Linked DNA regions of Homo sapiens. The protein of the gene in region 1 interacts with the protein of each later gene in a biochemical or structural test. Each region holds a gene or a part of one and is shown in the gene's direction. Other genes may lie near its edges.

Region 1 (4,249 bases):
TGCTGGCCTGAAAGTGAACTATTCCATCTCCTGCTATCATGACTGAATACTAGTCAAAGGGAAAAAGGGGGAAGTGGGAGGGGAAAGCACATACCTTTCTTAAAGAGCACAACCTAGAGATGGTCCCTATTCTGTTCATATCTCGTTGGCCTTAATTTAATCACATCATCACTGCAAGCTACAGTGGGGGCTGGGAAATTTGGTGTTTGAGGGGATGACCAAGCGCCCAACTGAAAATGTTATTCTTCTCTTATGAGAAGTAGAGAATGGATGTTAGGGAATGGCTAGAAGACTCTACTACAAAGGATACGGTGGTTCTTTTCTGATTGCTTCTAACTTCTCAATGAAAGGTGAGTTCATCAGCTGAATGAAAGAATAAATGAGATTTTGGGGACTTGAGGAGCAAGGAGAAGGAGTATAATAGTCATTTTGAAGAGTGAGTTAAGTAGGGAACTGTAGTAAGATTGACAGACAGTGTGGAGGGATTACTTGAATCTTGTGAATAGAGGAAAGAGTAGAATCAGATTATCCTGACTCCTGCCTGAAGCTTTACATATTCAGAGAAAAATGTTGGAAGAAACTTTGATATAATGCTATGTCTGTGATCAGGCACACATTTTACTGGACTTTTACTGTCAGGGCCGTCATTTAGTGCCAAGATGTCTAGAGAGTTCTTAATAAGTGTACTCAATTGGCTGAGAAAATGTGTCCATGCAAAAAACCAAACACCGCGTGTTCTCACTCATAGATGGGAATTGAACAATGAGAATACTTGGACACAGGAAGGGGAACATCACACTCTGGGGACTGTTGTGGGGTGGGGGGAGGGGGGAGGGATAGCATTAGAAGATATACCTAATGCTAAATGATGAGTTAATGGGTGCAGCACACCAGCATGGCACATGTATACATATGTAACTAACCTGCACATTGTGCACATGTACCCTAAAACTTAAAGTATAATAATAATAAAAAAATGTGTCCATGGCTCTGGGAGGAGCATGTTTGTTTTCCTCATTTCCCAGTCTGTAAATAAGCAAATTGAAAGGGGTTAGTGATAATGTCCATCTCCAGAAGCTGTCAGATTTCCTTTGTCAAACTCTATGATTTGGGCTGAAGTAGGTGTTGGAGAGGCAGCTACCACGTGCACCCAGATGGCCACTCGTTTAATATGTTACCATTTCCCATTATTTTCGCAGGATAGATAGCCAAAGTGGAGCCCTGAGAGATTTCTTCATTTTTCCTGTCATAAAGAATTGGTAATTCAGTAGTCATAGGAGTTTGTAATAAATAACTCACATTGATTTCTCTGTTCTGAAATAATTTTGCTTCCCCTCTTCCCGAAGCTCTGACACCTGCCCCAACAAGCAATGTTGGAAAATTATTTACATAGTGGCGCAAACTCCCTTACTGCTTTGGATATAAATCCAGGCAGGAGGAGGTAGCTCTAAGGCAAGAGATCTAGGACTTCTAGCCCCTGAACTTTCAGCCGAATACATCTTTTCCAAAGGAGTGAATTCAGGCCCTTGTATCACTGGCAGCAGGACGTGACCATGGAGAAGCTGTTGTGTTTCTTGGTCTTGACCAGCCTCTCTCATGCTTTTGGCCAGACAGGTAAGGGCCACCCCAGGCTATGGGAGAGATTTGATCTGAGGTATGGGGGTGGGGTCTAAGACTGCATGAACAGTCTCAAAAAAAAAAAAAAAAGACTGTATGAACAGAACAGTGGAGCATCCTTCATGGTGTGTGTGTGTGTGTGTGTGTGTGTGTGTGTGTGTGTGGTGTGTAACTGGAGAAGGGGTCAGTCTGTTTCTCAATCTTAAATTCTATACGTAAGTGAGGGGATAGATCTGTGTGATCTGAGAAACCTCTCACATTTGCTTGTTTTTCTGGCTCACAGACATGTCGAGGAAGGCTTTTGTGTTTCCCAAAGAGTCGGATACTTCCTATGTATCCCTCAAAGCACCGTTAACGAAGCCTCTCAAAGCCTTCACTGTGTGCCTCCACTTCTACACGGAACTGTCCTCGACCCGTGGGTACAGTATTTTCTCGTATGCCACCAAGAGACAAGACAATGAGATTCTCATATTTTGGTCTAAGGATATAGGATACAGTTTTACAGTGGGTGGGTCTGAAATATTATTCGAGGTTCCTGAAGTCACAGTAGCTCCAGTACACATTTGTACAAGCTGGGAGTCCGCCTCAGGGATCGTGGAGTTCTGGGTAGATGGGAAGCCCAGGGTGAGGAAGAGTCTGAAGAAGGGATACACTGTGGGGGCAGAAGCAAGCATCATCTTGGGGCAGGAGCAGGATTCCTTCGGTGGGAACTTTGAAGGAAGCCAGTCCCTGGTGGGAGACATTGGAAATGTGAACATGTGGGACTTTGTGCTGTCACCAGATGAGATTAACACCATCTATCTTGGCGGGCCCTTCAGTCCTAATGTCCTGAACTGGCGGGCACTGAAGTATGAAGTGCAAGGCGAAGTGTTCACCAAACCCCAGCTGTGGCCCTGAGGCCCAGCTGTGGGTCCTGAAGGTACCTCCCGGTTTTTTACACCGCATGGGCCCCACGTCTCTGTCTCTGGTACCTCCCGCTTTTTTACACTGCATGGTTCCCACGTCTCTGTCTCTGGGCCTTTGTTCCCCTATATGCATTGCAGGCCTGCTCCACCCTCCTCAGCGCCTGAGAATGGAGGTAAAGTGTCTGGTCTGGGAGCTCGTTAACTATGCTGGGAAACGGTCCAAAAGAATCAGAATTTGAGGTGTTTTGTTTTCATTTTTATTTCAAGTTGGACAGATCTTGGAGATAATTTCTTACCTCACATAGATGAGAAAACTAACACCCAGAAAGGAGAAATGATGTTATAAAAAACTCATAAGGCAAGAGCTGAGAAGGAAGCGCTGATCTTCTATTTAATTCCCCACCCATGACCCCCAGAAAGCAGGAGGGCATTGCCCACATTCACAGGGCTCTTCAGTCTCAGAATCAGGACACTGGCCAGGTGTCTGGTTTGGGTCCAGAGTGCTCATCATCATGTCATAGAACTGCTGGGCCCAGGTCTCCTGAAATGGGAAGCCCAGCAATACCACGCAGTCCCTCCACTTTCTCAAAGCACACTGGAAAGGCCATTAGAATTGCCCCAGCAGAGCAGATCTGCTTTTTTTCCAGAGCAAAATGAAGCACTAGGTATAAATATGTTGTTACTGCCAAGAACTTAAATGACTGGTTTTTGTTTGCTTGCAGTGCTTTCTTAATTTTATGGCTCTTCTGGGAAACTCCTCCCCTTTTCCACACGAACCTTGTGGGGCTGTGAATTCTTTCTTCATCCCCGCATTCCCAATATACCCAGGCCACAAGAGTGGACGTGAACCACAGGGTGTCCTGTCAGAGGAGCCCATCTCCCATCTCCCCAGCTCCCTATCTGGAGGATAGTTGGATAGTTACGTGTTCCTAGCAGGACCAACTACAGTCTTCCCAAGGATTGAGTTATGGACTTTGGGAGTGAGACATCTTCTTGCTGCTGGATTTCCAAGCTGAGAGGACGTGAACCTGGGACCACCAGTAGCCATCTTGTTTGCCACATGGAGAGAGACTGTGAGGACAGAAGCCAAACTGGAAGTGGAGGAGCCAAGGGATTGACAAACAACAGAGCCTTGACCACGTGGAGTCTCTGAATCAGCCTTGTCTGGAACCAGATCTACACCTGGACTGCCCAGGTCTATAAGCCAATAAAGCCCCTGTTTACTTGAGTGAGTCCAAGCTGTTTTCTGATAGTTGCTTTAGAAGTTGTGACTAACTTCTCTAATGACCTTTGAAATCAAGTCCCTGTAAGTTTACACTTCCCATTACACAACATATCCATGGCACTTTAACCTGTCCAAGAGTCCCCTGAAGGGATTCCCTCTGACAAGCACAGTCCCTCTTTTGAGATAGCTGGCCATTCATGTAGGGCCAGTTGTGGGGGTTTTAGTACTCTCATTCTATCATTATTCCAATTTGAGGAGCAAAAACTAAAGATCATTGAGATCCATGGATCTGCTGCCAGGTTCAGTGACTGGAATGCACTTGCCCCAGCGGGTTCAAGTTCTTTGTAGAAACAGACCCCTCAAAGATGACAGCAGCTGGCTTCCTCCAGAAGTGTCCTTCAACACTGTCTTTCAGTACTAAGTGACCAGTAGAAGTTACTCCATAAAGACCATAGCCAGGAATGAATTATGGGGCTTCCTGCATATCAAATGGTTACCTAGG
Region 2 (3,500 bases), about 37 Mb from region 1:
TAGCCGGAGTGGCGGCACACACCTGCAATCCCAGCTACTCAGGAGACTGAGGCAGGAGAATAACTTGAACCTGGGAGGCAGAGGTTGCAGTGAGCCGAGATGGTGCCACTGTACTCTAGCCTTGGTGACAGAACAAGACTGTTAAAAAAAAAAAAAAAAAAAAGAAAAGAAAGAAAAATTAAAATGATTTCCTTTAATATATGTCCCTTTCTTCTTCAGACTAAATAGCCTGCAATCATAAGAAAATGTAAGAGTATCTCAGGAGGTTACACAGTGCAGGGAGATTTAGATTTTCCAATATGGAGGAGACACTCAGCAGAAAACTGTGCATCCATGCTTGAGGGACTGGGTCAGAGAAGCTGTCATGCGTCACCCAACAAGCCTCTGGAGCCAGTTCTGTAACTAGCAAACACTTCCCACAAAGTAAAGATGTCACTTCTCTGAACTTAGTCTTCTCATCTGCACACTAAAGCTGTTGTGCCGCTAGCCTCCTTCCCGTTCTCTCTGATTTATGATGATTCAAACTTAAAGATTTTTCCTTAGTGATATTCTTAAGTTTTCCCAATAAATAGGCTGTAAATATTATTTTCTATCACTTGTTCCAGAATTATAGAAGAAACATAAATTATATGCTATTTAAATTATGGTATTGGTCAACATTCTATATGTCTACATACATATAGAATGTAAGAATATATATATATTTGAACATTCGTGTATGCACCTATTTTTTTATGTCAATAATATATCTCATCCGATACATGAATTCTAACTATGGTAAGAATGCATGCCATCGAATACAAACAAAATGCCACAAAACTCAAGAAAATGTTTTATTTCTGGAGATAATTGGTACATTTCTGATTTTTTTTAATGTTTAGAGTCATATTTCTTGTTTCTCTTTTCCAAAAAACAATTATTGGTAATGTGTGCACCCTGAACTGACAGCTTTAGCATAACTTGGTATAGTTCTAGATAAGCTCAGTTCAAATTAATGTTGATAAAACCTCCAGAATTGCTAAAGAGACCATACTACATTAGTAGAAGTAGAGAAAGTAGAATGAGGTTCTTCTTGTCCTGTTAGCTGATTTGGGATCCATTAAGGATTTTAAGTGTAGAAATAAAATGACCAGATGAAGGGTTATTAATTTATACCCAGGAAAACAGATTATACAGATGAGAGGTCAGGATCAGGAAACTAGTTATGGTTGCTGTAATTCCACAAGAAAATGTTTGAGAGAAGGTGATATCAAAATTTATCTCTAATATGATTTATTACAGTAAAAATTATTTATACTTTTTTGTTTGTTTTTTATTGCAAGTGAAACCTTGTGATTTTCCAGACATTAAACATGGAGGTCTATTTCATGAGAATATGCGTAGACCATACTTTCCAGTAGCTGTAGGAAAATATTACTCCTATTACTGTGATGAACATTTTGAGACTCCTTCAGGAAGTTACTGGGATTACATTCATTGCACACAAAATGGGTGGTCACCAGCAGTACCATGTCTCAGTAAGTAATCCTCTGAACTGCTACACATGTATAAAACTTTAAAAGATTAAAGAGAGGAGAGCACATAATTGATTACTCTTGTCTTATGTAACAGAAATAGGGCCAAGAAATGAGTTGTTCAAGCAAAATGACCAAAATAGATCTTTTCTATTATGAGGAGTTCTTGAAAATCATATGAAAAATAAATATAGAGACTTTATGAGAATATCTATATAGTTTATACATATTTTAATTATGAAAACTAAAGAGAAGTAATATTAAATATTGACATTTCCTCTTGTACAACCTTTGTTAGTAATTTTGGTTCATACTAAGTTGTACATTATTTTTGGATGTTTATGCGATCTTATTTAAATATGGTAACAATAATTTTAATATACTTTTTGTGCAAATTTATGTTTCTCATTTACTTTATTTATTTATCATTGCTATGTCCTTAGGAAAATGTTATTTTCCTTATTTGGAAAATGGATATAATCAAAATTATGGAAGAAAGTTTGTACAGGGTAACTCTACAGAAGTTGCCTGCCATCCTGGCTACGGTCTTCCAAAAGCGCAGACCACAGTTACATGTACGGAGAAAGGCTGGTCTCCTACTCCCAGATGCATCCGTGTCAGTAAGTACACCGCTCTGAGATCCCAGCATGTTCATGTCTTTCTAAGTAACACGGACGACAGTCTCAGACTTGTCTATATTAACTGTGGCAAAATGTTTTTGTCAACTTGTTTTGCCAACGGACCTATTTAGTTTTACTTTTTTAATTGTGTGAATATACAAATTTCTTGATAAGTACATAGCAAAATAAATGCTCCTATTAATGGGCATTAGTCAAGAATACAGTAAAAGAATTAGAACACAATACTTGTTGGCTAAATAAAGTCATATTGAAGCGGCATTAATGTCTCGGGTAAATACCCGAGGTTCGTCATCTTGCACCAAGAAGATTAAGTACAAATGGGTATTCTGGGATCTTGTACATATTCTACTCTAGAAGGTTTCCTACAGTATTTATTCAAATATACATTTATATAAACAGTTCCTTCTTTTTTCACATGTTGCTAATGATTGGTGATGTCACATTTTAATATTTACAAGTTGAGTGGCTATAAAATGGTATAGCATTGTAATGTAAATTTGCATTTCTTTTACTACCAGCTGGATTTAGAATACATGTTCACAGTTTAATTGGTATTTAATGATTCTAAAATTTGGAAATGCAGTTTGATTTCTTTTATTTATCTTTTTGGGAGTTTTGGTTGTTATTAGTTGGAATCATCTTAATAATTCTGAAGGTAAAATCTCTTTTAATTATATGTAATGCAAATGCATTCTCTTTGTGGCTAGTATTGTTCTTTCCTTTTTTCTGCATTATGAACAAGTTGCTCATTTTACTAAATAATTGTCAATCTTTTTTCATGATGAATGTTTTTTGGTTCTTTTTTTATATTTTATTATTATTATATTTTAAGTTTTAGGGTACATGTGCACAATGTGCAGGTTAGTTACATATGTATACATGTGCCATGCTGGTGTGCTGCACCCATTAACTCATCATTTAGCATTAGGTATATCTCCTAATACTATCCCTCCCCCCTCCCCCCACCCCACAACAGTCCCCAGAGTGTGATGTTCCCCTTCCTGTGTCCATGTGTTCTCGTTGTTCAGTTCCCACCTATGAGTGAGAACACGTGGTGTTTGGTGTTTTGTCCTTGTGATAGTTTACTGAGAATGGTGATTTCCAGTTTCATCCATGTCCCTACAAAGAACATGAACTCATCATTTTTTATGGCTGCATAGAATTCCATGGTGTATATGTGCCACATTTTCTTAATCCAGTCTATCATTGTTGGACATTTGGGTTGGTTCCAAGTCTTTGCTATTGTGAATAATGCCGCAATAAGCATACGTGTGCATGTGTCTTTATAGCAGCATGATTTATAGTCCTTTGGGTATATACCCATTAATGGGATGGCTGGGTCAAA

Evidence for each region. The genes of interacting proteins can lie anywhere in the genome.
Region 2: the proteins of CRP (region 1) and CFHR3 form a complex in vitro, tested with the Homo sapiens proteins (2 studies listed by IntAct, with this or other methods).

The regions. Positions count from the first base shown.
Region 1 is NC_000001.11:159,711,790-159,716,038, reverse strand, and holds CRP (C-reactive protein isoform 1 precursor), read left to right. Parts: upstream 1-1,449; 5' UTR 1,450-1,553; coding exon 1,554-1,614; intron 1,615-1,900; coding exon 1,901-2,514; 3' UTR 2,515-3,750; downstream 3,751-4,249. UniProt on the Homo sapiens protein: Displays several functions associated with host defense: it promotes agglutination, bacterial capsular swelling, phagocytosis and complement fixation through its calcium-dependent binding to phosphorylcholine.
Region 2 is NC_000001.11:196,777,840-196,781,339, forward strand, and holds part of CFHR3 (complement factor H-related protein 3 isoform 1 precursor), read left to right. Parts: intron 1-1,322; coding exon 1,323-1,517; intron 1,518-1,957; coding exon 1,958-2,134; intron 2,135-3,500. UniProt on the Homo sapiens protein: Might be involved in complement regulation.